Linked DNA regions of Homo sapiens. The protein of the gene in region 1 interacts with the protein of each later gene in a biochemical or structural test. Each region holds a gene or a part of one and is shown in the gene's direction. Other genes may lie near its edges. The genes, in order: PTPN3, EGLN1, PLCB2, YWHAB, RPS6KA3, SAPCD1 and SLCO1B1.

Region 1 (4,271 bases):
GAATTGAGAGCAACGCTTTGTTGGCTGTGAACTGGAAGGTTTCACACACAGTGGGGTTTGTTGCTGCCAAACCCCACCCCATTCCCCACCTTGCAGATAAGGAAACTGAGCTGGCAAAGGTAGAGTGGGGCCAGGAGCAAGAGGGACCAATTTTGACCTTCTGAACTACAGGTCCAGGCACACAAGAGACATTTTCTAGGACAGGCATAACCTACCAGAAGGGCTCAGCTTTGGGGATGGGAGGGAGTGAGAAGACATGGCACCCTGCCTTTCCCCAACCCTCCGGGTTTGTGGTGGTTGAGAAAAGACCAGCAATTTGTGGTCCCTACATCTTTTCCCAGGAGAGCTCACCTTCCAGCATTGCGGTCCTGGAAAGCAGGGACAATGCCTCTTTATCTTTTCCCAAGATCTGTTGTAGAAGCTGGAATGCTGAAGGCACCCAGCACATACCCTGGTCTGGAAGGGCTGGTGGGGGTGCAGTAGCCTACCCAGCATCAGCTCTTCATTCCAACTCTAATAGAGACAGGAGGAGACCAGGTCAGTGTCCACACTGCTCTTGGCTGGGTCCAGGTGACCTCAGAGCCTGATCTTATAGATGTCTTCTTTCCTCTGGCCGAGAAGGACCTGAGAAGTGCTTGGTAAGCCCCTGGCTGAAAACTGATTTGGTAATGGGTTCTAAGACCCAGAAATGTTGCATCTCCAGAGCTTCTGCTTGTGTGTGCACCTGAAGCTTCCCACTGCCCCCAGGTTAACTTGTTATTCCAAGACCAGGTGTGAGCACAGATTTAACAGCAAATTGAGACATTTATTGAGTCTCTACCATGTATTAGGCCATAGGGCTACAGAGGTGAACGCTGAACCCCTGCCTTGGAAGGATTCATGGTGGATTTGGAAAGACAGTTTGTATATGTGTATGTGCGTCCCCATCCATCTGTCCATGGTCCTGTAAGTACTTTAAAAGGATAAGCTAGGTGCAAGAGACACCAGAGGATGCAGCCATTCATTCCGATGGGCATCAGGAGACACTGTGGAGCGTAGTTCTAACCATGGGGAGAAGTTAGTTCTAACTTCAAGGCATAATTTGAATTAAGCCTCAAACTTAGGAACAAGATGGCATTTAGGGCAGGCAAAACAGCAGGGGCAAAGGCATGAAGAGACTTTGTGGATCATAGGCGTGGTGATTCTTCTCCAAGTCCAACCTGGTCTTTTTTGTTTTTTGAGACAAGGTCTCACTCTGTCATCAGGCTGGAGTGCAGTGGCCCGATCATGGCTCAAGCAGTCCTCCTTGTACCTCGCACCTGGGACTACAGGCATGTGCCACCACACCCAGCTAATTTTTTATTTTTTGTGGAGACAAAGTCTTACTATGTTGCCCAAGCTGGTCTCGAACTCCTGGGCTCAAACAGTCCTCCTGCCTTGGCCTCCCAAAGTGTGGAGATATAGGCGTGAGCCACCGCACCCAGCCAAATCCAGCCTCTTGGTGTTCACTAATGCAGAACCCACCTGCTCTGGTTCGGGTCTGCTTTATCTCTGTACATGGGCCAGGCCTCACCTAGCCCAGGGCTAAGTGCCTATTCTCCTTGTTTTCACCTGGATGGGAGCAATGCCACTGTGTTGTCTTTGAGGCAGGAGTAACTTCTGCAGGGATGCCTCTGGTTTTAGTTATCAGCACTAATCTGTACTTATTGGTTGCCACACACTGTTGTGAGTGCTCTCCAAATAGTAACTTAATTCATTTAATCTTCACAGCAACCCTGTCGCCAGGCTGCCTCCCAGGTACAAGTAGGTGGGGGCTGAACTCCTCTGCCCAGTGTATGTCCCTCTGTGGGTGATGCTCTGATTGTGGCCCGGCCTCCCCCTGGCTGCCTTTACATAGATGTGCCGGGAAACAGCCCAGTCTGAATTGCAGTGGAGCACTGACCCCATTTCCTTTAGGGGACCGGCAGGACTGTGCTGACTGCGTTTTCTGAACCAAAGAACGGGATCTGTAGTGTGAAAAAAGAATGTGTGTGCCACTGCTTTGTGCAAGAGGAGGCCTGAGAAGTGTTTGGATACTGAGAGAGTGGAATTTTTGAAACATTTTGATGGTTTATATGGAAAGTTAGGACAGAGGATTTGAAATTGGAATAGTCCTGGAAAATTGAGGTCCCATGATTTACTGTTAGGATACACAAGCTTTTAGTAAATGTTTAAGCAGTGTAGAGTGAAGTGAATTTTTTTTACTGAGCCCCCATAGGGAACAAACAGTGCATTTTAGCCTCAAAATCTGACTGATTCCTTCCAGCCCCATTTTACAGAGGGGGTGAGAAAACTGAGGCTCAGAGAGATGAAGTAACCACCAAAGAGCACAGTGTTTGTAAGCAGTGCAGCCGAGATTTGTCTTTTTGGTTTTTGTTTGTTTGTTTGTTTTTTAAATATAGAGAAAGGGTCTCGCCATGTTGCCAGGCTGGTCTTGAATTCCTCGGCTCAACTGATCTTCCTGCCTCAGCCTCTCAAAGTGCTGGAATCACAGGCGTGAACCACTGTGCCTGGCTGCAGCCAACATTTGAACCCAAGTCTGTGCCTAGACAAATCATCTGTTGTCAAAGTCAAATAAAATATAAAAACAGATGTTTCTCTAAATTTAAAACATTTTGCTTGGGAAGTAAGAATAATAATTTGGGAAATCTATACAGACTAGGTGGTCTTTGGTTTGGAAAACAAAGAGAATGTTGGGAGTTTTATTAGAATGAGAAATATTATGTATTGTTTTGAAAAAAGTCCATCGGCACTAGAGAAGCTCTTCGGGAGCTGGCAAGCTCTGATTGTTGCATGATGGTAGCAGATAAAACTAGTCTTAGGGTCACAGCAATTTGTTTCAGTAGTTATTAAATAAAACTGGTTTTAGGTTATAACAGGCAGTTTTAGCAGCCACGCTTGCAGAGAATTACATTTTTGGAGCAATGTTATGTGCCCTGAGTATTTTTCCCCTGGCCTCTCAACTCTGATTTAGTTGGGCATTACAATAATGACCCAAATTGTATAATCAACTTCCACCCTGTAAAATGAGGATCATAATTGCACCTATTCCCTTTAAGTTGACTGTTGTCAATGAGCTAATGTGGAAAACTAAGGCAAAACTTGGCATAGAAAAGGGGTCCCTCACTTTGTGGTCAGACCCCTGACCCTCCAGACAAGTGCTTTGATCTGTGTTCAGTGCTGAGAGTCGCTGTGGGTGAGTGAAGGTCCCTCCTCAGCCAGGACCACAGGTCCCGGTTCTCAGGACTGAAGGGATATTCCAAGAGGGAGCATCCAGGACTGTGCAGGGGCCATGGCTGCCTGAATGCTGTGCTGATGAGGGTCCCCTGGCGTAGGAGTGGGGTTGGAGACCTGGCCCATGCATGTCACCTCCCTCAGCCACATCAGCTCAAGGGCTAGCCCAGAGGTTCTCGGTGAGGGAGGCAGCAACCAGCTCCATCAGCTGTTTTTTGACCGCCAGCCACCATTGGGCCTGGGGAGGGGAGGTTGGCCTCTGAGCTCAGTCTTCCCCACTGGCTCCCCCGAGTCCCCTCCCCTGCTCTGGTTATCAAATGCATTCATGGTTCTTGTAGAAAATAAAGTGTCAGGGAACACAAGAAAAATTATGCATGATGCTTCTCTGAAAGCAGCTGGTCCACTGTCAGCACTGCCATGATCTGCACATGCCCTCTCCTGCTTCCAGTGGATTCTCTACTCCACAGACGGGGGAGTCTTCCATACACTCCTATTTTTCTCAAAATGAAGACAAAGCTGATCTCTCAGCATCTCCTGCAGGCCCTATGTTCATGCTCTTTGAGCCCTCACCTCACCGTGCTCCTTCCTGCTGCAGGGACTGCAAGAGCCTGGGACCTTCTCCCCCTCCCCACTGATTACTTCATCCTGTGGGTCTCAGCTCCATGATTGCAGAGCCTTTGCTCACCTTCCTGACTTGAGTTAAATTGTTGCTATAAATGTTCATGCCACCAGATCTCTCTCCATTATAGCACTTTTCCTAGTGGCAATTTTGCAGTTAATTAATGTAATTATTTGTATTAGTACCTGTCTCCCGGCTACACTGTAAGCTGTGTGAAGGCAGGGTCTCTTTTTTAAAAAAACTTTTTCTAAGTTTTATTTTTTTTTCTTTTAATGTTTTATTTTGATACAATTCAGACCCATAGGAAGGTTGTAAGAATAAATCAAAGAAGTCCCATAAATTCTTCACCCAGATTCCCCAAACATTACCATTTTATTCTTTTTATTTTATCCCTGTGTAC
Region 2 (4,271 bases), on another chromosome or scaffold:
AGATCCCCGGTTGGGGGATAATCCTGGTGCCCTCAGTTTTGTTCTATTCTGGGATGTCTGGCTCATTTTGACAGTTATCGATAAACTCCTCTCCTACCCGATGCTTGTAATTAAAACTGCTCTTTCACCTAGTGTTTCCATTTTCATGTACAGTGACTCCATTCATTTACTTACCTAGGCTGAAAACCCCGTAGTCATTCTTGACTCTTCTTACTCTCCACTCATTAGCAAATCATGTTGGTTTTCTGCCTTCAGAATACACCCCACTTTGCTACTCTGGGCTCAGCCTCTTTGGTTTCTTGCCCGGAAACTTTAATAGCTAACTTAGTCTTCTCTTTTCACTCTTTGCTTCCTGCAGTCTAGTACAGTGGTTAATTCCATGGGTTCTGGAACCAGATTCCCTGTCATGTGACTTTGCGAATACTAATTAGCCTTTCTAAACCTCAGTTTAGAGGAATGAGGATGAGAACAGTGATACTGTTTACCTCACATGGTTGTGTCAGACAACTTGTTATGCACAAATTACTTAGATAGGACATGGCAAACAGTAAATGTCCCATAAATGTTAGGTGGTAAGAGATATTGAGGTTGTTGTGGTTGTTTTTATTCATACAGACTTGAAACTGATATTCTCAAAACATTAGTCAGATACATTCTCTGTTGGCTTCCTGGCCCTTCTTAGCACAATATCCAAAGGCCTTCCTGTGGCTTACCAAGCCCTGCAGCTCTAGGTTACCTGGTTCCTCTCTGATCACATTGGCCCGTGCTCGCTGTGTTCCAGCCACACTGGCCTGCTGCTCTTTCCTGCCTTGTTCAGCCTTTGAGCACTCATTTTCCCTCTGCCACATTGCTCTCTCTTCAGAGATTTGCCCAACTTGCCGCTCCCTTCATTTAAGTCTAAACCCAAATGTCAACCACTGTTCAAGAATATCATGTCATCTTTCTCTATATACCTAATTTTTTTCATATCTTAAGAAAATACAACTTTTCACTACCTAACATTACATTATATATCTGTTTATTGGCTAATTATGCTGTTAGACCAGATTTCATAGTACAATAGTCCCCTCTTATCTGAGGGCAATACCTTCCGAGACCAAGTGGATGCCTGAAACTGTGGATAGTACCAAATCCTAATATACTATATTTTTTCCTGTACATACATACCTATAATAAAGCTTAATTTATAAAGTAAGAGATTAACAACAACAGTAAAATAGGACAATTATAACAGTATGCCAGCATCGCTACTCTTGCACTTTGGAGCTGTTATTAAATAAAATAAGGTTTCCTTGAACACAAGTACCACGACGATTGCTCTGATGACCTAGAAGGCTACTAAATGACTAATGGGTGGATAGCATCTACAGTGTGGATATGCTGGACAAAGGGATGATTCATCCCAGGCAAAACGGGGCAGGACTGCAAGGTATTTCAGTGCACTACTCAGAATGGTGTGCAATTTATAAACTGTTTATTTCTGGAATTTTCTATTAAATTTTTTGGACTAAGTTGACCAAAGGTAACTGAAATCACAGAAAGCAAAACTTCTTATAAGGAGGGACTATGTAAATGAGTGCAAGGGACCTTTTCTCTTTGGTTCATCGTTTTAGCCCCAGTGCCTTTCATATACATAGTCGATGTTCAAGAGGTATTTGTTAAATGGATATATGGGATGTGATGGGGTGAGTGACTGACAAATATTTTCCCCTTCCTTCTTTACACAAGAGATGCTGAAGTTACCAGATAGTTGGAAAGGCCCAAATTAACTTTTTTGAGATGTAGAGTTCAGGTTTCCCCCTTCTTTCCCATGAATAACAATATATTGTGTAATTCATCATAATTACTTCAGTTAACCACAAATGGAGTAATTGCATTGTTAAATTAGTACCCTCTTACAGTTACTATTCAAGGTAAACTTCTTTCCTGGGTAGCTAGTGACAAGAAAATCATTTGGGCTCATCATTTATTGAGCACTTAAACCCACTAAGCCCATGCCACACTCCTGGTTGTTACCAACCTCCAGTGCTGAAAGAAGGAACTTGTTAAGTCTGTCTGGAATCAGGAAAAACAGAGACATATATAATGTTCTCCAAAAATTCTGCTGCTTATAAAGAGCAGTGAATTCAGAGTGTCTAGGGAAACAGGATTTTTAAATAAGGATTTAGGTTTAAGATGCCTCTTAGTTTCTTAGGGATGGGAAGTGAGTTTTAAAAATTAGCATTTTTCTTTTAATATGATAGTAGAACAATTCGGTTACTGTTTGATAACTTTATACTAATTCATTGACTTTATTATATGAAGAAATAAAGGACTTCAAGAATAGCTCATAACAAACCGGGTGGCGTGGTGGCTCAAGCCTGTAATTCCAGCACTTTGGGAGGCTGAGGCAGGAGGATCACTTGAGGTCAGGAGTTTAAGACCAGCTTGGCCAACATGGTGAAACCCTGTATCTACTAAAAATACAAAAATTAGCCGGGCCTGGCAGCATGCACCTGTAATCCCAGCTACTCGGGAGGCCGAGGCAGGAGAATCGCTTGAACCTGGAAGGTGGAGGCAGTGAGCTGAGATCGTGCCACTGCACTCTAGCCTGGTCAACAGAGCAAGACTCTGTAAAAAAACAAACAAAAACAAGAATAGCTCATAACCTTGAACGTCTTTGTTTGTTTTCTTCATAATTCCTGAGAATTTTTTAAAAAATACCATTACCAATTTCAGTTAATTATCATGTACACCTAGAATATGGAAGTTATTTTGTGCTTTTTATTTTGGGCCTCTTTTCTACCTTTAAGCTTAACATCCAACAGTCTTCTGAACCATATCTTGTTATAATCTGAGCAAATAATTTTCTTTCTGATTGAAAGAGGGTAAACATAAGCTAATTTGTTTAGTCCTTTTTTTAAAAAAAAATCACTGACACTAAATGAGTTAATGTTTGGAGTTTAGTTGACCTCCTAAATTATCCCTATTACAACATAGTAAGACACCATATCTACAAAAAATACAAAAATTAACCAGCCTGGTGACACGTGCTTATAGTCCTAGCTACTTAGGAGGCTGAGGTGGGAGAATCACCTGAGCCCAGGAGGTTGAGGCCGCAGTGAGCCATGATTGCATCACTGCACTCGAACCTGAGCAACAGAGCCAGACCCTGTCTCAAAAAAAAAAAAAATTGGTACCATTCAGAGACAGTGTCAGATGGGGTGTTGACTGGGTTGGTTCACCTATCAGATGGTAAAGTAGGTGTTCTGAGGTGAGCTCAAGGAAGATTGAAATCTCCCATGGAGCAGGACAAAAACGTACTTGATCTTGATTATCTGTATTTATAAAGATTGTCAAAGTAGGACCAAGAAATTTTTCTGATCTTTGGAGTTATCACTGTGAAGCAGAATTCACCAGTCCTTGTTCATCAACCTATCTTGTGTTCCCTATAAATGTTAATGTAGAATAGCCTTATCTTATCTACAAAATATTATTTTTATTAGAAGAATCTAAGTGTAAATCAGTAGCCAAAAATCAGAGATCTGATTTATTAGCTGTTCTCTCTTTTTATTTATACATGGACTTTAATAATCATTATTATCATTATTACAGGCCATGGTTGCTTGTTATCCGGGCAATGGAACGGGTTATGTACGTCATGTTGATAATCCAAATGGAGATGGAAGATGTGTGACATGTATATATTATCTTAATAAAGACTGGGATGCCAAGGTATGCAACTTAATTGAGCATTTATTTTTTTCTTACAGGTGTCTTTTTCTCAAAAGCATTAAGTTTCATACTTCTGATAAGACTGTCACAGACACAGTTAAAAATTTTCCTCTTAAATTTGTTTCAGTCTCAGGTATTAGGAGTGGATTTTTGTAAAATGAAACAAATACTACTCTATGTTATACAACATGATACCTGTAGTTAACAACGTAGTGTTGTGCACTTAAAAATTTAAGAGGGTAGACTCCATGTTCAGTGTTCTAAACACACACACATACACACACACACACACACACACACACGCACACACGAGGTTAGGGGAAGGGAAACGGAACTTTGAGAGGTGATGGATATGTTTATTACCTTGGTTGTGGTGTGTCATGAGGGTGTGCGTATATATCCAAACTCATCAAATTGTAAATGTTAAAGATATGCATTTTTGTATATCAGTTATACCTCAAAACCATATAAAAAAGTACTGATATATCTTAAAAAGTGGATTCATTTATTTTCAGATGTTAGAGCACTTATCTAAAATCTAACTTTTTTAGAAAGGT
Region 3 (4,271 bases), on another chromosome or scaffold:
CTCCAAGCAGGTTTGTCTGTATCCCCTACCCTGGGTGGTGGGGGCGCTGGGGCTGTGGTTGATGGACTGTGTTCAGGGCAGGCAGCAGAAACGGCATGCATTCCCAGTCTAGTGTTGGGAATGGGAGCTGAGCGTGAATGTTTTCAGCCTGGAGGAGCGAGATAAGGTCGGCAGTGGCAGGCGGCAGTCTGCAGGGATCTGGAAGTCTGCAGCGTGTCGAGGGAGAGGAACTGAACCAAAGGCGGAAGCTGCCAAGATGCAGACTTCTGCTCTGTACAGAAAAGCATTTTTCCCTGTCTTTTTAGTTAAATAATTAATTTTTAATTACAAGTTGTAAGCAGGGTCACCCCATGAAGCAACTTGTGTGAATTACAAAAAGGAGCCCTCTGGGCTGATATGGCCCTGAGCTAGGCTTCAAGCCTGGCCAATGGAGCGAATCTCAGCCCCTGTCCCTGCTTGGCCAGTGCTCTTGTGTGGGTCCCAGCCTATACCCCATGGAGTATTTTCTCCTGGTAAGAATTTGGAACGTTATAAATAAATAAAACCACGACCCCCATTGATCACCTGCCCACATGAATCCCAGGAGGAGCATTTACCCCACAGCCACAGCTCTGCAGAGTTGGTGACTCCTTGATGCAGTCAGTCACAGGGATCCAAATGTGGCGTTGGGGAGAGGTAGGAATGGGCTCCTGCGGCTCCCCTACAGCCAGCAACACTTACCTGTGGTCAGCACACATCCACCCTCCCTCTCTCCTGCTGCCTGAGCTCCTCCCTTGGCTAAGTCCTCCTTATCTATCTGCTTTCCTTGTGTCTCAGTAGAGGCTACTGACCCAACTTTGCTTGGAGCTGAAGCTCCAGAGACAGGGAGGGGTTTGGGGAGATCCAGTTAGACTCTCCTGCTCAGACCCTCTGCTCCAAACTAAGACTGATGTTGGCCTTCCAGTGTGATTCTGAAAGACATTTAATGTTTTTTTTGGGGGGGGAAGGAATGCAAAGGTGCAGAATCCCTGAATACCACAAATGTACTTTTCATTTCTATTTCTATAGATTTGCCTATTCTGGTGGTAAAGTAAATGAAATCATAAATATATGCTTTTCGATGTCAGGCTGTATTCATTTCTCATAATGTTTTCAAGGTTTATCCATGTTGTAGCATGCATGAGTACTTCATTCCTTTTTACCACCTAATAATATTCCATTGTATGGATATACCACATTTTGTTCATCTGTTTATCAGTTGGTAGATGTTTGGGTTTTTTGTACTTTTTGGTTATGAATATTCATGTACATGATTTTGTGTGAACATGTGTAAATTCTCTTGGGTATATACCCAGGGGTGGAATTGTTGGGTCATGTGGTCACTCTATATTTAACAATTTGAGAAACCGCCAAACTGTTTTCTAAAGTGAGAGCATTGTGTAGGGATTTATTTATTTATTTTTGAGACAGAGTCTCACTCTGTTGCCCGGGCTGGAGTGCAGTGGCGTGATCTCAGTTCACTGCAACCTCTGCCTCCCAGGTTCAAGCAATTCTCCTGCCTCAGCCTCCCAAGTAGCTGGGATTACAAGCATGTGCCACCATGCTGGGCTAATTTTTGTATTTTTAGTAGAGATGGGGTTTCACCATGTTGGCCAGGCTGGTCTCGAACTCCTGACCTCAGGTGATCCACCCTCCTCGGCCTCCCAAAGTGCTGTGTGGGGTTTTAGGTTAGTCACATCCCGCTGACACTTGTGATTGTCTGTTTTTTGTTTTAGCCATCCTAGTGGGAGTGGTATCTCATTGTGGTTTTGATTTGCATGTCTCTAACTACAAATTATATTGAGCACCTTTTCTGTGTTTATTAGTCACTTATATATCTTCTTTGGAGAAATACCTGTCCAAATCCATTGTCCATCTTTCAACTGGGTTGTCTTTTTGTTGACTTATCTCTTATCGGATATCTGATTTGCAAATATTTTATCCCATTCTGTGGGTTACCTTTTCACTTTCTTGATGGTGTCCTTTGAAGCACAAAAGTTTTTAATTTTGATGACGTTTAATTTATCTTTCTTTGTCCCGGTGCTTTTGGTGTCTCCAAATATTATTGTTGAATTGTCCTCCTTTCAATTCTATCAGTTTTTGTTTTATATATTATGGGGTTCTGTTGTTAGGTGCATATATGTTTATATTCAAATTGCTTCTTTTTGAATATTTGTCCTCCACTTAAAAAAGATAGCCTACTAGCCTGGCAAGCAGCATCATTTCTTCTGACCTCTTTTCTACCTCATTCTGGTTATTCTTAGTTCCGATCCTGCCCCAGCCAATGGAATAGCCACTGTACAAAATCAGGGTCAGAGCAAACCAGCTAAGCATGCTCTCTGCTCAGCAACCAGGGCCTTGAGAAGTGGATGCTTGGGTGTCCTTGAAGTTCTTCTGTCTGCCTTGAGCCCGCCTTCTGACCAGGTCCCCTTGACCAGGGCTGGGCCGAGTTTGTGGTTCTTAGCTCTGAGAAGGTGAGGGCAGGGGCAATAAGGTTACTATGCCCCTAGAATGACGCCATCAATCCTGAGGACTTCCCAGAACCTGTCTACAAGAGTTTCCTCATGAGCCTCTGTCCTCGGCCAGAAATAGATGAGATCTTCACTTCTTAGTGAGTTTCTTGGGTTGTGCTGGTCATGGGAAAAGGGTGGTGGCTAACAATCCCCTCCTCCCACCTGCCATGCCGGGAGTCAGGAGGCTTCACTGGACAAGGGGGTTGTCTAAGCCTCCAGGCCCAAGGGATATGGACCTGTGCTCTTCTCTCTGGCTTGAAGCCATGCTAAGGCCAAACCCTACATGACGAAGGAGCACCTGACCAAATTCATCAACCAGAAACAGCGGGACTCCCGGCTTAACTCCCTGCTGTTCCCGCCAGCACGGCCTGACCAGGTGCAGGGCCTCATCGACAAGTATGAGCCCAGTGGCATCAATGCACAGAGGGGTGAGGACTAAGGGAACCCCTTGTCCCCTGTGGTCCTGTCCTGCCTTGGCAGCGGGGTTGTAGCCTGACAGCTATCTCCTGTCCCCCAGGCCAGCTGTCACCTGAAGGCATGGTCTGGTTTCTCTGTGGGCCAGAGAACAGCGTGCTGGCCCAGGACAAGCTGCTGCTCCACCACGACATGACGCAGCCACTCAATCATTACTTCATCAACTCGTCCCACAACACCTACCTGACAGGTGGGCCCTGATAACATTGGTGCCAACCTCTGCTTTCACAGGGGTTCCCTGCATCCTCCACAGGGGTTGCCCACATGCTGCTGGCCCTGAGAATAACACAGACCATGATGGAGTGGCGGTAGGGGGAGAGCTGGGCTGCCTTTGGGTGATGCCCTCACCTCTTCCCCATCCTCTGGCTCAGCCGGCCAGTTCTCAGGCCTCTCCTCGGCTGAGATGTACCGCCAGGTGCTGCTCTCTGGCTGCCGTTGCGTGGAGCTAGACTGCTGGAAGGGGAAACCCCCTGACGAGGAGCCCATTATCACCCATGGCTTCACCATGACCACAGACATCTTCTTCAAAGTGAGACCCTGGGCACAGAGGCTGGTGGCCGTGGCAGTAGGGAAGGGCTCTGGGCCAGAAGCTTTGAGGGGTTGGAGGGCTGAAGCTAGAGAAGATGAATGGCTGGAAGGCCTCAGACCATTGGGGACCAGCAGGGATTGGGGGCCAATGGCGGCCATGCAGTTATATGTGTGTATTGAAACTAGGCAGGGGGGAAAAGTGCTATCACGAGACAGGCAGTCGGAACGCTGACCTTCTGTTCATGGAGTCTCCTTCTCCTCCAGGAAGCAATTGAGGCTATTGCAGAAAGCGCCTTTAAGACCTCCCCCTATCCCATCATCCTGTCGTTTGAGAACCATGTGGACTCGTGCGTATCCAGGCCCATTCAGCCACATTCTCACCCAGCCCCCAGTCTCCTGTCTGCAACTGTCCTCCCCACAACTGCCCCAGCCTCTAACCATTGCCTACAGCTTCTCCCACGTCTCAGTATAATCACCCTAAGGCCTCATGTTCTCCTGCTCGAGTCCCAGCCTCCCTGACCTCCTGGCCCCTGATCTGGGTCATCAAGGGCACAAAAGGATGCATAATAGGGTTGGTGCTGAGCGGCTGAACCCCATCCCCGCTTTTGCTCCCCGCAGACCCCGCCAGCAGGCTAAGATGGCTGAGTATTGCCGGACGATCTTTGGGGATATGCTGCTCACAGAGCCCCTGGAAAAGTTCCCAGTGAGTGGGCTTCGCTGTGGGACATTTGAGCCTTG
Region 4 (4,271 bases), on another chromosome or scaffold:
GCCTGAGCAATGTAGTGAAACCCCACCTCTACTAAAAATACAAAATCAGCCGAGTGTGGTGGTGCATGCCAGCAGTCCCAGCTACTCGGGTGGCTGAGGAGAATCGCTTGAACCCAGGAGGCAGAGGTTGCAGTGAGCCGAGGTTGCGTCACTGAACTCCAGCCTGGGTGACAGAATGAGACTCCGTCTCCAAACAAATAATCATTTTCAGAGCCTTAAATTGTGATACCATGTATGTAGTAATGAAAGAATTTGTTTTGAAAATACTGGCATTGGCTAGGTGCAGTGGGTCACGCCTGTAAGTCCCAGCACTTTGGGAGGCCAAGGCGGGCAGATCACCTGAGTTTAGGAGTTCAAGACCAGCCTGGCCAAAAATGGCAAAATCCCATCTCTACTAAAAATACAAAAGTTAGCTGTGCATGGTGGCACGTGCCTGTAATCCCAGCTACCTGGGAGGCTAAGGCAGGAGAATCACTTGAACCCTGGAGGTGGAGGTTGCAGTGAACCGAGATCCCACCACTGTACTTCAGCCTGGGTGACAGAGTGAGACTCTGTCTCAAACAAACAGACAAAGCACACAAAAAAACCTGACATTACTACTACTGTTTAAAGTAGCATTTCATGTTTTTATAGCTCAGGATATTAGTGTATTTTTATACTGTGTGGCACAGATTGATATATCAATATTTAAACCAACAGTACATAAAATTAACTCTTCTTGTTTAGTAAATAACTTTTCAATTATTTTATCCAAAAATTACTTATTAAAATTACCGCACTCTGTAAATGGTGATTATTGCAGTGGGGAACTGACTGTGGTGAGTTGATAAGAGATATTCACTGATTGGCATATGGATTTGATAAATTGATAAACTGAAGTCACTAGGATTTTTGTCTATTTCAGAAAAACTTTAAATGAACTCAGTTATGGTTCAGATGAATTCAGTTATGGTTTCAAGTTATGTTGCTGTACATCTTGTTATACACCCCTTTCTCTTGCAACCTATACCATATACAAAATTAGTGCCTGATATTTTTATATAATGCTTTATACTTTTTAAGGTGCCTTCACATGTATCAGGTCTTTTGTTCCTCATAACAGGCCCACTAAAAGAGTTGGTAGTGTTCTTTCTTTTTTTTTTTAGAGACAGGGGTCTCAGTTGGTTGCCCAGGCTGGAATGTAATGGCACAGTCACGGCTCACTGCATCCTGGAACTCTGGGCTCAAGTGATCCTCCCACCTCAGCCTCCTGAGTAGCTGGGACTACAGGTGCACACCACCACACCCAGCCAATTTTTTCTTCTTTTGTAGAGATGAAGTCTTACTATGTTAGAGACTGATTTGCCAGGATAATCTTGAACTCTTGGGATCCTAGGCGTGAGTCACCACATCCAGCCCTGGGTAGTGTTCTTATTGCCCAGTAGAGACCGAAGCTCTCAGGTTAAGTGATTTAACCAAGGTCATGCCACTTGTAAGTAAGTAGCAGAGCTAGTGCTAGATAGAGCCCAAGTCTGACTGCCCTTAGTTTATGTTCTTCCTGTGCAGTGTGTCCTAGTAACAAAGTTAGCAGATTACAGAAGATGTGATATAATCTTTCCCATCCTTCAGTTATCTACTGCTTGATGGGTGCAGCCAAATAGATCATTTAAAATCATATCTTTTGCTTCAGGATTGGTTGAAACAAACATCATACTTACTCTTTCCTGTACTATGGAAAAAACAGGTTTAGTCAAAACCAGAGTTGCTTACAGGACAGTGAAGAGAGGACTTCCTGTATTACAGGATACAGTTGGATTAAGGTCATTAAAACAAACCAGACAATTACTGAGAGAAGTCAAGGACATATATATAGTAAGCATAAACTTTTTTTTTGAGATGGAGTCTCACTCTGTTGCCCACGCTGGAGTCCAGTGGCGTGATCTCGGCCCACTGCAACCTCTGCCTTTTGGTTTCAAGCGATCCTCCTGCCTCAGCCTCCCCAGTAGCTGGGATTACAAATGCCTGCCACCACGCCTGGCTAATTTTTGTATTTTTAGTAGAGATGGGGTTTCACTGTGTTGGTCAGGCTGGTCTCGAACTCCTGACCTCGTGAATTGCCCTCCTCGGCCTCCCAGAGTGCTGGGATTACAGGTGTGAGCCACTGCACCCGGCTAGTAAGCATAAACTTCTAAAGAAATAGTTATTAAGCAGTCTGTATGTGCCAGGCAGGTGAATTAGGCTAATGGAAGAAAACAAAAGCTCTAGAGCCAGATAGATGTGAGCTGGAGTTCTGGCTCTCCACCATCTATTTGCATGTTGCTCTGGGCATATCACTTGCCTTCCCTGACCCTCCATTTCTTCACCCATAAGAAGGGGAAAGTTGTTGTTATGAACATACCTACTCTGGGACTGTTGGGAAGATTACTGGACCAAAATAATATAAAGGCCTTAGCAAAGTACTTAACCCTAGAGGTGTTTGATATATCATCAATATTGTTGATGGCATTTGGAATGAGATGTTTCACATTTAGTATGCTGCTTTCCAGATGGGTTGGAAGAAGATTCACACACGTTTCCTAGGCCCCGAAACCTGACATTTGCTCTTTCTTTTTCTCTTGCTCTTGTTCTAGGGAATGACAATGGATAAAAGTGAGCTGGTACAGAAAGCCAAACTCGCTGAGCAGGCTGAGCGATATGATGATATGGCTGCAGCCATGAAGGCAGTCACAGAACAGGGGCATGAACTCTCCAACGAAGAGAGAAATCTGCTCTCTGTTGCCTACAAGAATGTGGTAGGCGCCCGCCGCTCTTCCTGGCGTGTCATCTCCAGCATTGAGCAGAAAACAGAGAGGAATGAGAAGAAGCAGCAGATGGGCAAAGAGTACCGTGAGAAGATAGAGGCAGAACTGCAGGACATCTGCAATGATGTTCTGGTAAGAGGCCAGTGCTTCTGTTTTGAACAGTGGTTTCTAAATAGTATTAATTTAATGTATAAATGCAGACTCTCAAAACAGCTTATGAGAGAGAGGTGTCTGAATATACTGGAAAGCTGCCAGGTATTTACAACTAATTTTTAAGCATATGATATAATTTGTGTCACCTATTGCCTGATCAGAGGTTGTACATCACTTCTGAGATACTTTCCTCTCCTATCAAAAAGACCTGTGAAAAACAGTGACATTTTTTCAGCCTCCCTCCATCTTTTAAAATTGAGGCCAGATAGACAGGATTTTAATAGATACAGCTACAGATAGGCTATTGTGTATATTAGTCAGAGTAGTGATGTCATCGCCAGTAGGGGAGGGAGATGAAAAAGCTGAGCTGCCTTTCAGCCTCTCCCCAGTCATGCCTTCACACTGTAAAGTCCTGCTTTGGTCTGAAAGTTAGGCACATCCATCAAGTTCGGCATGCATTCCAGAGCCAAATTCAAAGTGTTTTGGGCATTCTCCTCTCCTGTATTTTACATAAACCCTTAGTCAGATGATTGATTCCCTCTGGCCGCCACTTGGGATTGAATGGGAGGGGTACGTACTCCAAAACAAATCATAATCATATTGTCTTTCCCGCACATCCTGAGCCATTGGGAACTTTCTTTTTCTTCCAGGTGAAATCAGGTAAAAATGAACTCAGCGAGGGCTGCTTTGAAGGGAAAAGGAATTCACACTTGGGGACCTACCACCTTCCCTGCTGGCTGCCTTTCTAAATTACTGCCCATGACTCCTTTCTTTTGAAAACCAGTATAAAGCTTGTCAGCCATCAGGCAGCACCCCTTATCCCTAACCTATTAGGAGTTACACACTGTCTGTCTACAAAGAATATTAAAACGACTGCCGCCCCCTGCATCTTCTCACTTTGGTTGATTAAATCCCCTTATAACTAAGCTTTGCATTGAGCTTCTCTTTTTATTAGACTCATGGCGTAAGAGTGTCATGACTAAATTTGTTGCCTGTTGGTAATTTGGGGGTTTGTTAATGGTGCACTAATTCCTGAATGTTAGGTACATCTGGTATTCAGATGAAGTATGTCATGCATTCCAAGGGCAAGAAAGTTCCATAATTCATGAAATGTAGACCAACTTTTAAGAGCATCTGAAAGAATGTGAAGAAGAGCTTGGTACTTACTGCCTCTTAACCAGTTTTTCAGGATGCCACATTCTAAAACAACTCTTCGAAAATATTGCTCTGTATACGAAGCTTGGACTCCTTCAGAACTACTTTTGTTGTAAGCATAAATGTTTAAAGGAATTTATTATTAATAGTATTAGCTACTCTTTGAGTGCTTACTACGTGCCA
Region 5 (3,500 bases), on another chromosome or scaffold:
TGAAATATTTCTTTATAATTAAAATATGTCTAAGTCTCTTTTTTTTTTCCCCTCCAGAAACTGTATAGAAGAGAAATTCATCCGCCATTTAAACCTGCAACGGGCAGGCCTGAAGATACATTCTATTTTGATCCTGAGTTTACTGCAAAAACTCCCAAAGGTAAGGAGAAAATGTGAAAATCCAAATATAAGACAACAAATATGTTTTTTTCTTGTTTCATCAGAAAATCTTTTCCAGACTCTGGGCGCGGTGGCTCACACTTGTAATCCCAGCACTTTGGGAGGCTGAGGCGAGCAGATCGCTTGAGGCCAGGAGTTGGAGACCAGCTTGGCCAACATAGTGAAACGCTGTCTCTACTAAAAATACCAAAATTAGCCAGGTTTGGTGGCATGTGCCTGTAATCCCAGCTACTTGGGTGGCTGAGGCACGAGAATCGCTTGAACCTGGGAGGTGGAGGTTGCAGTGCATCAAAATTGCACCACTGCACTCCAGCCTGGGTGACAGAGCGACACTCTGTCTCAAAAAGAAAAAAAGAAAATCTTTTCCTGGATAACTCTCTAAGCTATCTTCACATCTCCTAAATTTGCTGTAGATCAACCTTGTATCTCCCCTGTTCCACCCCAACTAGGTTATTATTGAGGGCTGCAGTTTCTAATATGGTAGCCAGTAGCCACATGTGGCTAATTAAATTTAAATTAATTAAAATTTAAAGTGTAGTTTCTCAGTCACGCTAGGCACGTTTCAAATGTCGAAAAGCTGCATGTAGCTAGTGGCTATCAGACTGTAAAGTTAAAGAAAATTTCCATCATTTCAGGAAATTCCATGGGACAGCATTAATTTTGAATACCATTAACCCTATAATTCATCGATGTATTATAGTCTTCAAATGAATTAGCTATTTTCTAGGCTCCGAGGGACTAGGATGTTGGTGTTGTAATGGCAATACACAATCAGAACAGATCTGATACAGTGCCTCACAGGTATCCTGGAAAGCAAGAGGTATATACTGTGTACCTGAGAAATAGAATTCCAGAATAAGTGAAAAAGGTCATAGTGTCAACAGTTTTTCCCTTAATTTCCTTTCAAATGAATCTTCTTTGTCACTTCTTACTCTTTTCAGATTCACCTGGCATTCCACCTAGTGCTAATGCACATCAGCTTTTTCGGGGGTTTAGTTTTGTTGCTATTACCTCAGATGATGAAAGCCAAGCTATGCAGACAGTTGGTGTACATTCAATTGTTCAGGTGAGTGGATGTCTAAATAATTTTAGATTTGGAATGTTGTAAGATATAGTTCATTCTGTGAATAGATCTTTTTCTACTGACTTCAAGTGAGCAATTTAAAATACATTTTAGACTGGGCATAGTGGCTCACACCCGTAATCCCAGCACTTTGGGAGGCCAAGGCAGTTGGATCACTTGAGGTCAGAAGTTCAAGACCAGCCTGGCCAACATGGTGAAACCCCTATCTCTACTAAAAATACAAAAATGAGTTGGGCATAGTGGCACGTGCCTGTAATTCCAGGTACTCAGGAGGCTGAGGCACAAGAATCACTTGATTCTGAGGCAGAGGTTGCAGTGAGCGGAGATCGCACCACTGCACTCCAGCCTGGGTGACAGAGTTGAAACTCTGTCTCAAAAAATAAAATAAAATACATTTTATATCATTAACTTTACTCTTAGGAATTTTTTTCATATGTCATCGAAAAGGTTGCAAGAACCAAAATCCTAGATACCTATGTGACTTGAAAGTAGAGTTTTAGGCCAGGTGCGGTGGCTCATGCTTGTAATCCCAGCACTTTGGGAGGCCGAGGCGGGCAGATCACAAGGTCAGGAGTTCGAGACCAGCCTGTCCAACACAGTGAAACCCCGTCTCTACTAAAAATACAAAAATTAGCTGGGCGTGGTGGCGCATGCCTGTAATCCCAGCTACTTAGGAGGCCGAGGCAAGAGAATCACTTGAACCCGGGAGGCAGAGTTTGCAGTGAGCCGAGATCCGCCACTGTACTCCAGCCTGGGCGACAGAGCTAGACTCTGTCTCAGAAAAAAAAAAAAAAAAAAGAAAGTAGAATTTTAAAAGAGTTGAGATAAACATGACGATGTTGTCTATATCCTCTCCTGTGCCTCAAAATGTTTTTCATGCCGAGTTTGTTTCACCCTCTGCCTCCTTCAGGTCAGCTATGATGAATTGAGGTCTTCTGGTTCTTTGATGCCTTAGAACAGGAGTCGGCAGACTTTCTCTGTGAAGGGTCAGATAATACTTGAGGCTTTGTGGGCTATATGGGCTGTGTCACAACTACTCAACTCTGCTATGTAGCACAAAACAACCACAGACAATACATAAACAAGTGGGCATGGCTGTGCACCAATAAAACTTTATTTACACACACAGGCAATGAATCAGATTTGGCTCACTGGCCATAGTTTGTCAACCTTTGCCTTAGAAAAGATACAAGAAATAAAAATGAACTCAAATCTTAAGTCATCTTTCTAATCAAAGGGAACTCGATATATCTTTTGAAGCATTGGATTCTTTTTAGGATATCATTTGTACTTGGATTTGCTTGATGATTAAGTTGCTTTTGCTCTAAAGTTTTTTCATGAGTCAGTTATCCTGTTTTCCATTTTGTAGAAAAACAATTAAAACACTGGTTTTTAAGCAGAGCTCATGTTGAAATAGTCTGTGCCATTTACTATGCAAGCACATGAATGTATGGCAAGTTTTTAAATTACAAATTCTGTACCTAACATAGAAACCACAAACTTGTATATCCTACAAAATTCAAGTTTTAACATATACAAAGCTCATAGGCATGGATGTCTCATATCAGTATAGCCAAGGGCAGCACAACTTTCCTCAGCCTGTTTATGGAATCAGTAAGTTGCTGTTCATCATCTACTGTGTGTTATTAGTCCCTAACCCATGACGAGCTTCTTTAGCATAAGTTGTGTAAGGCTATGACTTCAGGGTGAAGAAAGGAGGGAGTGGCTACTGAAAGTCCAAAATGGCGATAACAGGTATTGCTTGCAAATACATTATTTTTATTTAATCTTCACCATTACCCTCTGAGAAAATACAGGCTCAAAGTTACATAGCCTGTAAGTGGTGTACCTGAGACAAGAATTCAGATATTCTAATTCTGAATCCTCCTAAATCCTTTCCTTCTATACCATAGGTTTCAAACTTCTCATTTGCAAAGGTACTTGAAAACCTATAGCCGACTGGGGACTGGAATAAGGCTGAATCACAGACAAAGATGTAGGCCCCATATCAAGTAGCTCTGCTTTTTCTGTTGTGCAAATTCAATTTTTGTTTGTAACATAAGCTTTTTTAAGTCATATTTCTTGCTGTACACTTCATTGTAAACACTTTCAAAATCACTTGTTTGTAGAATAATAAGTACTATAAAGATGTATTTTTATTCTTATTCATTTATATGTAGGGCATCAACAATGCATGCTGAGTAACATACTTCCCTATTATAAAATGCACTAAAGG
Region 6 (4,884 bases), on another chromosome or scaffold:
TTTGTGCCAGCAGAGGAGGCCGAAATTGGGGCAGTAGACGCCATCTTCACACGAATTCATAGCTGCGAATCCATCTCCCTTGGCCTCTCCACCTTCATGATCGACCTCAACCAGGTCAAAGGGAACAAAGGGAGGTGGGATTGAGGAAGGGGATAATGGGAAAGGAACCCCTGAAAATGCTCATAACAGGAAAGCATGCCCTCTGCTGCATGCCCTTTATACTAAAAGTGGGGAGCACTAAGGTCAGAGATAAGAAGAATCAATACCATAAACATTTCTTGAACCCTTGTTTCATGTGAGTCACTGTTGGCAAAGAGGATGAACAAAGCGTGCACCTCACCATTCAAGAACTTGCAGTGCAGTAGGGAGGGCATGTATACAGCTTTATTCACAGGCCAACTGTGGTCAGTGCGTTACGGGCTTCCAATACTAACTTTCCCTTGTCCACCTTATACCCAGCAGGTGGCGAAAGCAGTGAACAATGCCACTGCACAGTCGCTGGTCCTTATTGATGAATTTGGAAAGGGAACCAACACGGTGAGGGGAGAAACTGATGAGGGGAGAAACTAAGGAGGGGAAAATGGAGGAGGATGAAGGAGCATGACAGTGAGGCTGGGCCTCTGGAATGGAATAGGGCTGTGTGGGCAGAAAAGAAATAGAACACGAGACAGGGAAAGGCAGTGCAAGTGCAGAGGGGCATATGGGGTCCCCATGGCTCCGAATGCTAACCTCTGCCCTCTTTGCAGGTGGATGGGCTCGCGCTTCTGGCCGCTGTGCTCCGACACTGGCTGGCACGTGGACCCACATGCCCCCACATCTTTGTGGCCACCAACTTTCTGAGCCTTGTTCAGCTACAACTGCTGCCACAAGGGCCCCTGGTGCAGTATTTGGTGAGGAGACCAATCTAGCTCCTCGGGGACCCCCAGGCTGGGCATTTCCCAGAGGTGGGGATTGGCTCCTCTATCAGAACAAGGGCTCCCTCAGCACAGAGACCACATCCCTTCCCTTTTCTCCCTCCCCACAGGATTGGCCAAGGGTTTCAGGACAGGAAGGAGGTGATTGATGATACACTGTCTTTTATTCTCTTTTAAGACCATGGAGACCTGTGAGGATGGCAACGATCTTGTCTTCTTCTATCAGGTTTGCGAAGGTGTTGCGAAGGCCAGCCATGCCTCCCACACAGCTGCCCAGGCTGGGCTTCCTGACAAGCTTGTGGCTCGTGGCAAGGAGGTGATGAGATCCAAATGTGCAACCACCTCCACATCAGAGCTCCCTTTCATTCCTAGTCCTACTGGGCCTGGGTCTAGGTCCACAGGATTTCTGACCCTTATTTCCCCTTCTCTTCCCCACTCCCCTTACTCCTCCCACCTTCTTGCTTGTTCCTAGGTCTCAGACTTGATCCGCAGTGGAAAACCCATCAAGCCTGTCAAGGATTTGCTAAAGAAGAACCAAATGGAAAAGTGCGTATATGGCCCCAGTGTCTTTACCCTCTCTGCATCTTCTCCTGCAACTCTTCTCCCCTTTTCAGGGACTCAGCCTTCCTCCAGCACTTTGCCCTTCAGAAACCCACCATTTCTTTCTGAAATCCCTAAATCTTCAAGATCCCAGGTTTTCTGTGCCACAGCCTCTCCCCTCTGCCCAGGGATTTGGTTGTCCATTCTGCCATAAATCTTGCGATTTTCTCTCTTCTTCAGTTGCCAGACATTAGTGGATAAGTTTATGAAACTGGATTTGGAAGATCCTAACCTGGACTTGAACGTTTTCATGAGCCAGGAAGTGCTGCCTGCTGCCACCAGCATCCTCTGAGAGTCCTTCCAGTGTCCTCCCCAGCCTCCTGAGACTCCGGTGGGCTGCCATGCCCTCTTTGTTTCCTTATCTCCCTCAGACGCAGAGTTTTTAGTTTCTCTAGAAATTTTGTTTCATATTAGGAATAAAGTTTATTTTGAAGAAAGATATTGTTTCTTTAGTCTCAAAACAAGAGACTAGGAAAGATCCAAAACACAGAGCAGGAGTCCACAGGGGAACCTGCCCTGCCTCAGTAAAAATACAGTGTTGTTGCTGTAGGAAGACTCCCGGATTCTACCCCAGGATACTTCATGAGAACGAACCCCTTCAGAGAGGCCCTACAAAACAGATTAGAGGGAAGACAGAGGGGTCCAAGGGAGATGGTCTCTCTTCTCAAGTAGGAACACCCCAGCCTCAGACAGACACAGCAGGAAGGGGCCTGAGAGGCTGACAGAGGCAGGATGGGTGCAAGGCAGGGGTGGAGGGGAGGGACCAGCCCGGGCTGCACCAGTGGGAGTGGCTCCACCCTTCCCACCTCAGAGCCATGGGGAGCCAGGGCTCTGGCGGGGTGCCCTTGGTGCAGGCTCCCTACACAGTCCTGCTGCTGCCGCTGGGGACAAGCCGCCAAGACCCAGGGGCCCAGAGCTTCTTCCTTTGGGTGAGTATCAGCCCAACAAGAGGTCCCAGGGGAACTCTCTCAATAGATCTGCCCTTTATATTTCCATTCAACTTGAGGGCCCACAGTGTTCCCGCCTGCCTCCCCTTGCCCTCCAGGTCCTCAGTGGCCAGTCTGGGTTCACACTCAGTGACCACACAGTGAACCCAACTAGGGGTGGAGAGAAAGGGCCATAACCCAGAGCCCTACTGTGGCGTGAGAGTCAGCCTCTGTGATTGCCTTTCCCAGCTACGCAGGATGCAGGCTCTGGAGAGAGAACAGGATGCCCTGTGGCAGGGTCTGGAGCTGCTACAGCATGGCCAGGCCTGGTTTGAAGACCATCTGAGGGAGGCACAGCGACAGCAGCTGCATCTAGGGGCCCTTGGTGAGGTATGGGGGCTGCCCCTCTGTGTGAATGGGGGGAGGACCAGGGAGGGAGGAACAGGGAATGTGTAGACACAGCCTGAGACCACTCTGGAGAGGGGAGAGTTAATGGTCAGGGATCATGAGTTGGAGGCAGCATCGTAATGACAGGATGCCACCAAGTGTTAAGTTGGTGTTCATTGTTGGGGCTGGAGGAAGCTGGTCTGCATTCCATTCAGAGGGATTTGGATCACTCCATGGAGATGAGGGTGTGGCCTGGATTATTCCAATGGGGCAGGGATGGACAGGGAGGCTCCATGAAGAGTAGTGAAAGGGGGTATTGTGCTATTTGAGGGAGATGGAGGAACTGATGTGCTAAAGAGATGGAGGTGGAGAGTACTGGATTTTCCCACCTGCCTGGGAGGGTACTGGGACGAGGGGATCCAGATGAGAGGGATGGCCTGTGGTGACAGGAATAGAGTGGCAGACGACCTCAGGTTTTCACCATGTTGTCAGCCTCCAACTCCTCCTCTAGAATTTTCTAACAGATTTACACTCAGAGCCTGGTCGCCCCCCGTTAGCCCAGATTCAAAAGGTGAACATCTGTTTGCAGAATCTGATTCATGAGAAGGTGAGTTTATTGTTTTCAGTTTAGACTTTTGGGAAGTTGGACTAGAGAGGGGAGTTGTTGGGGTCAGTGCTGGCTTAACAGAAAACACAGCGAATTTCCCCTCCAGTTCTCCCCAAGTCCACTGAACAAGGCTAGTTCCTGCACCACCCAGGATTCAAAGGAAAGACGAAGGGAGCAGAACTTGTGGCAGCAACAGGTAAACTTCAAGAAGGAGGGCAGGAGCCCCACCCTACAGGGCTGGGAGGAGCCCAGAGGCCCCATCTGTTTCTCCTCCAGGAGTTGTCAAGGCAGCAGAAAGGAGTCACCCAGCCAAAGGAGGAGATGGCTCAGCGGGGCTGCACCAAGGGGCCAAGAGGCCCTACCCGTGTCTAAACCCTCCTCTCACTCCCCTAAGCCTGGTGAAAGAGTCAGAAGCCCCAGGCTCCTTTTTCTGTTTCTTAACTCAACAGCTAAAAAATGGCTCCAGGTAGTGAGTCAATGAAGTTCAGACATGTTGGTGTAAAGTTTCTCCTCTGCTCCTGAAAACTTCATCTTCTTGGTGTCTCATGTCCTCATTCTCCCCTATATGACATGCAAAAACGATCTTTCTTTGAAATCCCTCTGGGAAGAAGCATGTTTATTGAAACTGTCCTTCAGCCTTAAATACAAAAATAAAACTGAAACTGCTCCAGAAAGCAGCTTTCTCCAAAAATGTCTTTGGTTTGTTTCTCATAGGGTTAGGAAAAGTGCATTGTGGGAATATCCATTGCCCTCTATCCCAGTCTTGCAGGGTGTTTTGTTTTGTTTTGTTTCTGAGATAGGGTCTCACTGTCGCTCAGGCTGTAGTGCAGTGGTTCGACCACAACTCACTGCAGCCTCAACCTCCTGGGCTCAAGTGATCCTCCTGCCTCAGCCTCCCAGAGTGCTGGGATTACAGGCGTGAGCCACTGCACCCAGCCCCAGTCTCGAAGTTTCTAAGAAAGGAAAGGGATGTGATGGAGAAAGAAAACCTTCATTGGCTGGGCACGGTGGCTCACGCCTGTAATCCCAGCACTTTGGGAGGCCGAGGCAGGCAGATCACCTGAGGTCAGGAGTTTGAGACCAGCCTGGCCAACATAGTGAAACCCTGTCTCTACTAAAAATACAAAAAATTAGCCGGGCGTGGTGGCGGGCACCTGTGATCCCAGCTACTTGGGAGGCTGAGGCAGGAGAATCGCTTGAACCTAGGAGGCAGAGGTTGCAGCGAGCCGAGATTGCGCCGCTGCACTCCAGCCTGGGCAATGAGCAAAACTACATCTCAAAAAAAAAACAACAACAACAAAAAAGAGAAAACCTTCATCCCAGCTAGGAGAGGTAAGGTCCTAAGACCTATGTGACAAATGTGTCCCAGGTCTTCTTACCAATGGGGCAGGTTGAAAATAGTGCTGGAGACCCATCCCTTTAGAGCCCGTTGTGTCACCAGGAGGCCAGG
Region 7 (4,271 bases), on another chromosome or scaffold:
TTCTATCTTTGTGTCTTCTTCATCATGTCCATTTTTTTTCATCTGCTTTTGGCACCATACCGTCAGAGTCCTCTAATTTCCTTTTTAATCTTTATTTATGATTCTTCATGAGTTGTATGGAAAATAAACCTTAAAGGCAAGTATCACAGCTTCATCTTCCATTCTACCCTAAAATTAAGGACCACAATCTAGATCAGCATTGCTCTAAATATGCCATAATATGTGACACTTTTGCACCTGGTATTTCTACAGCCTTGAATACCTTTGTTTCTTTGTCTACCCTTCTATTCATCTTCCAGATTCGTTTTACCTGTCATTCTCATGTTGATGTCTTCTCTGATCTATTCCCGCAACCTCCAAGCAAAGTTGATCATATCCTTTGTCTTTGTGACAACTCAGGACCTTATATATTAAACTTATAACTTTTATCATCTATGTTTATACTAGTGTGAAATTCCCTAAGTACAAAAACTGTGTGTTTTATTTCTAGCTCTTTGAAGCTTAGCATAATGCCTGGAATACAGTAGGCTGCCTTTAGAGCTCACGTGGTACCTAATTATTTATGGATATTAACATCTCTGTTATTCCTATCAAGTTTTCTCTCATCTAGTTGAAATGGATTAGATTTTATTTTTACTACATTTTGAAGAGTCATACATTAGAGCGTGTGTGTGAATATGTGTCCATGAAAGAAAATCTGACAGACTGATCATCTTTGAAGATAATTCAAAAGGATGAATGGTTACACACAATTAATAATTACTTTTTAAAAAGGTGAAACTAGGATATTTCATATCTTGACCAAGATATAACCACTCCTAGGATAATAGCAAGGTGATAACCCACTTAGCCTGGGGTGTATTGAATTATCTTTCTTGCTGGACACTTCCATTTCACTTTTACCCATCACATCTCTTAAAACACATGCTGGGAAATTGACAGAAAGTACTCTGGTAATTTGGGGAAGATAATGGTGCAAATAAAGGGGAATATTTCTCTGTATTTCTAGGAAAAGTGAAAATATTCAGTAGATAAGCAAAATGTTTAATTCAGTGATGTTCTTACAGTTACAGGTATTCTAAAGAAACTAATATCAATTCATCAGAAAATTCAACATCGACCTTATCCACTTGTTTAATTAATCAAATTTTATCACTCAATAGAGCATCACCTGAGATAGTGGGAAAAGGTAAGAATTAATATTGACAGTAAAAAGTCTTCTAAAATGTATACATTTAATTACATCTCTAAAAATTGTTGTGATATTCATTAGCAAAATTTAATTAAGAATGAATAGGAAAAACATTTGACTCTTACAGACATAATTATAGTGTTAATATACACAGTTCGCCCATTAACAACACAGGTTTAAACTACGCGTTTTCACTTCTATGCAAATTTTGTCCATCTGAACTGGATGATAAACCTGCCGGTAAGAATATCTGACATTTTCTATATTTGGATTGAACAGGGCCAACTGCAGAACTTAAGTGTGCATGAATTTGAGAACACACAGGCAGCCCTGTAACAAATTCCTTAATATACCAAGGGATGACTGTATTATATGTAAAAGCATTTAGAAGTAGATCAGAAAAGAGAATATTTTCAATAGGAAATTGACAAAGAATATATGCATTAAAGTAAAACAGAAGGAAATGGTATAAATATGTAAATAATATAACTTTGCTTTCATTGCAAAAGGCAAACTATTATATCATTTAAAGACTTTTTGCCTATTATAACACAAATTATAAATTATAATTGCAAATTGTACTGCTAAAGATTTTTTTAACCTATTAAATAGAAAAAGACTAAAAATACATAGAGACGAGGTAGAGGCAAAAAAGGATTTCACATTGTATATATTGCTGGAAGTGTATACGTTTGTAAATCTTTCTGGAGATTCATTATCAATATATGTTAAGAACAAAAATATACTTACCTACTTAGTCTGAAATTCTGCTATTATTGATTAATCTTAAGGAAATAACCAGGAAACTGCAAAAGGACTTATTTACAGTTATAGTCATGATAAACCTAATAGAATAAAACAACAAAAAAGAAATTAAAACATAAGATACTGAATAAACACATTTGGAAACTTATTCAGCACATTACTGTCCAGTCATTAAAGTTTTGATATTAAAGAAATCTTAACAACATGGAACAATTGTTATAATATGGTGTTAACTGTGTATACCATTTAACAATATGAACTAGATTTTTAAATATATAATGGATATAATGAATATAATGTATATGTTTTGTGCAAATCTAGAAGATATATAAAAAAGCTTGAGGTGATCTTCTGTGTGTAATGTGATTACAGATAATTTTTACTTGTTTGTGCTTTTCTGTATGATATGGCTTGACTGTGTCCCCACTCAAATATCACCTTGATTGTAATAATCTCCACATGCCAAGAGTGGGGCCAGGTAGAGATAATTGAATTTTGGGGGCGGTTTCCCCCATACTGTTCTCGTGGTAATGAAGAAGTCTCACAAGATCTGATGATTTTATAAATGAGAGTTCCCCTGCAAAAGCTCTCTTGCCTGCCACCATGTAAGACATGGCTTTGCTCTTCCTTCATCTTCCGCCATGATTGTGAGGCCCCCCAGCCATGAGGAACTATGAGTCCATTAGACCCTTTTCCTTTATAAATTACCCAGTCTCAGGTATGTATTTATTAGCAGCATAAGAATGGACTAATACACCATATTGTCAAAGTTTGCAAAGTGAATATAAATTACTTGTACTTGTAAATTAAAAAAAAATAAGTAGAATAATTAAGAGTTTACAAGTAGTTAAATTTGTAATAGAAATGCTAAAATTAATGTTTAAAATGAAACACTCTCTTATCTACATAGGTTGTTTAAAGGAATCTGGGTCATACATGTGGATATATGTGTTCATGGGTAATATGCTTCGTGGAATAGGGGAGACTCCCATAGTACCATTGGGGCTTTCTTACATTGATGATTTCGCTAAAGAAGGACATTCTTCTTTGTATTTAGGTAATGTACACAAAATATTAAATTGTATGATCACTTTCCCTTTGTCTACTTTTGAAATAGTAGAGTTACTAAACTTATTATTTTACCTATTAGAACATATATTTGGGTATATGTATTGTATCATATTTCTTTTAAAAACATGGTGAATAAGAACCATGCATTCTTGGCATCTAGTAAAATTGCTTTATAATATTTTCAGGTATATTGAATGCAATAGCAATGATTGGTCCAATCATTGGCTTTACCCTGGGATCTCTGTTTTCTAAAATGTACGTGGATATTGGATATGTAGATCTAAGTAAGTACAACCAGAACAAGGTACCATGATAACGTCTTTCTAAGCACACATGCGAAAAACATTTTTTCAAATAACTGAATTCACTCTTTCAATAGTCCTTTGCTTAATATAATTAGAAAGTTACAAGTAGGAAATAAATGTATTACTAATCAGAATAAATATAAAATCCAGCTCCTATTTATACTATCTTTATAACTAAGTGTAAAATGAGAGAATGTAAACAAATTTATTTTCATGAGCTTGGTCCAAAATAACCAAATGTAAAATGTCTCCCTCCCAAACTGACTGTCCAGTCAAGTAAATTTTATTTTTCAGTTGATGGTGGCTTGGATGTTGATGTGTACAACTTAAAGTTTGCTTTGCTAAAGTCTTCTTGTGGCTGCTGCATTGATTTATGGCTGGAGTCATTTGAGAGACTTCACTGTGTATTTTATGGTCATTTTCCCTGGTCCTAGCAGAGGGCTTGGCGTATGGCAATGTTCAGTAAGTACTTGTTGAACAAAGGAATAAAGCAGAGGACACATAAATAAAATCTATGATTTTCTTCTTCATTCTCAGAGCATACTTTCCTTCTTATCTCATAGATGAAAGAGATGCCATGTTATAAAAACTGTCTCAACTTCAGGCCCTTTTCCCTAAAAATATTCTTGCACCATATCTATCTTTATCTTCTTTTTCTTTTTTGCAGCTCAGTGGAAAATATATACATCTGTATCCAATGTTGATAGATCTAGCTGGAGCTTAGATTCTCCCTTCCCGCTTCTTTATCTCCATCTTCTCTTTTATTCAGCAAACACACCCAAGTATTTCCCATCTTTATATGTAGATACAGTTTTTTATACCCCCACACAACTTTCCAGCTGAATCCTTTTTTTATTCCTCTTTAGAACCAAGCACCTAGGAAAATATCAGCTAAATTAGCTAAGATATCTCACCTTCTCACCTCCCATCCACTTCTA

Evidence for each region.
Region 2: the proteins of PTPN3 (region 1) and EGLN1 interact in a test that uses a peptide from one of them, tested with the Homo sapiens proteins (one large-scale study listed by IntAct).
Region 3: the proteins of PTPN3 (region 1) and PLCB2 interact in a test that uses a peptide from one of them, tested with the Homo sapiens proteins (one large-scale study listed by IntAct).
Region 4: the proteins of PTPN3 (region 1) and YWHAB form a complex in vitro, tested with the Homo sapiens proteins (one study listed by BioGRID).
Region 5: the proteins of PTPN3 (region 1) and RPS6KA3 interact in a test that uses a peptide from one of them, tested with the Homo sapiens proteins (one large-scale study listed by IntAct).
Region 6: the proteins of PTPN3 (region 1) and SAPCD1 interact in a test that uses a peptide from one of them, tested with the Homo sapiens proteins (one large-scale study listed by IntAct).
Region 7: the proteins of PTPN3 (region 1) and SLCO1B1 interact in a test that uses a peptide from one of them, tested with the Homo sapiens proteins (one large-scale study listed by IntAct).

Annotation. Positions count from the first base shown.
Region 1 is NC_000009.12:109,491,384-109,495,654, reverse strand, and holds part of PTPN3 (tyrosine-protein phosphatase non-receptor type 3), read left to right. Parts: intron 1-4,271.
Region 2 is NC_000001.11:231,373,423-231,377,693, reverse strand, and holds part of EGLN1 (egl nine homolog 1), read left to right. Parts: intron 1-3,594; coding exon 3,595-3,714; intron 3,715-4,271. UniProt on the Homo sapiens protein: Cellular oxygen sensor that catalyzes, under normoxic conditions, the post-translational formation of 4-hydroxyproline in hypoxia-inducible factor (HIF) alpha proteins.
Region 3 is NC_000015.10:40,297,486-40,301,756, reverse strand, and holds part of PLCB2 (1-phosphatidylinositol 4,5-bisphosphate phosphodiesterase beta-2), read left to right. Parts: intron 1-147; coding exon of another isoform or gene 148-165; exon of another isoform or gene 166-1,090; intron 1,091-2,282; coding exon of another isoform or gene 2,283-2,348; exon of another isoform or gene 2,349-2,511; intron 2,512-2,528; coding exon 2,529-2,629; intron 2,630-2,792; coding exon 2,793-2,959; intron 2,960-3,048; coding exon 3,049-3,195; intron 3,196-3,376; coding exon 3,377-3,534; intron 3,535-3,797; coding exon 3,798-3,880; intron 3,881-4,151; coding exon 4,152-4,236; intron 4,237-4,271. UniProt on the Homo sapiens protein: The production of the second messenger molecules diacylglycerol (DAG) and inositol 1,4,5-trisphosphate (IP3) is mediated by activated phosphatidylinositol-specific phospholipase C enzymes.
Region 4 is NC_000020.11:44,898,922-44,903,192, forward strand, and holds part of YWHAB (14-3-3 protein beta/alpha), read left to right. Parts: intron 1-2,609; 5' UTR 2,610-2,612; coding exon 2,613-2,912; intron 2,913-3,976; coding exon of another isoform or gene 3,977-3,997; exon of another isoform or gene 3,998-4,271. UniProt on the Homo sapiens protein: Adapter protein implicated in the regulation of a large spectrum of both general and specialized signaling pathways. Binds to a large number of partners, usually by recognition of a phosphoserine or phosphothreonine motif.
Region 5 is NC_000023.11:20,172,910-20,176,409, reverse strand, and holds part of RPS6KA3 (ribosomal protein S6 kinase alpha-3), read left to right. Parts: intron 1-57; coding exon 58-160; intron 161-1,121; coding exon 1,122-1,246; intron 1,247-3,500. UniProt on the Homo sapiens protein: Serine/threonine-protein kinase that acts downstream of ERK (MAPK1/ERK2 and MAPK3/ERK1) signaling and mediates mitogenic and stress-induced activation of the transcription factors CREB1, ETV1/ER81 and NR4A1/NUR77, regulates translation through RPS6 and EIF4B phosphorylation, and mediates cellular proliferation, survival, and differentiation by modulating mTOR signaling and repressing pro-apoptotic function of BAD and DAPK1.
Region 6 is NC_000006.12:31,760,726-31,765,609, forward strand, and holds SAPCD1 (suppressor APC domain-containing protein 1), read left to right. Parts: upstream 1-1,930; 5' UTR 1,931-2,329; coding exon 2,330-2,443; intron 2,444-2,689; coding exon 2,690-2,830; intron 2,831-3,338; coding exon 3,339-3,434; exon of another isoform or gene 3,435-3,540; coding exon 3,541-3,630; exon of another isoform or gene 3,631-3,710; coding exon 3,711-3,806; 3' UTR 3,807-4,125; downstream 4,126-4,884. Other genes in the region: MSH5 (mutS protein homolog 5), read left to right, coding at 1-114, 460-537, 747-890, 1,093-1,230, 1,387-1,460, 1,695-1,806; VWA7 (von Willebrand factor A domain-containing protein 7 precursor), read right to left, coding at 4,869-4,884.
Region 7 is NC_000012.12:21,175,709-21,179,979, forward strand, and holds part of SLCO1B1 (solute carrier organic anion transporter family member 1B1), read left to right. Parts: intron 1-1,067; coding exon 1,068-1,189; intron 1,190-2,867; coding exon 2,868-3,014; intron 3,015-3,213; coding exon 3,214-3,312; intron 3,313-4,271. UniProt on the Homo sapiens protein: Mediates the Na(+)-independent uptake of organic anions.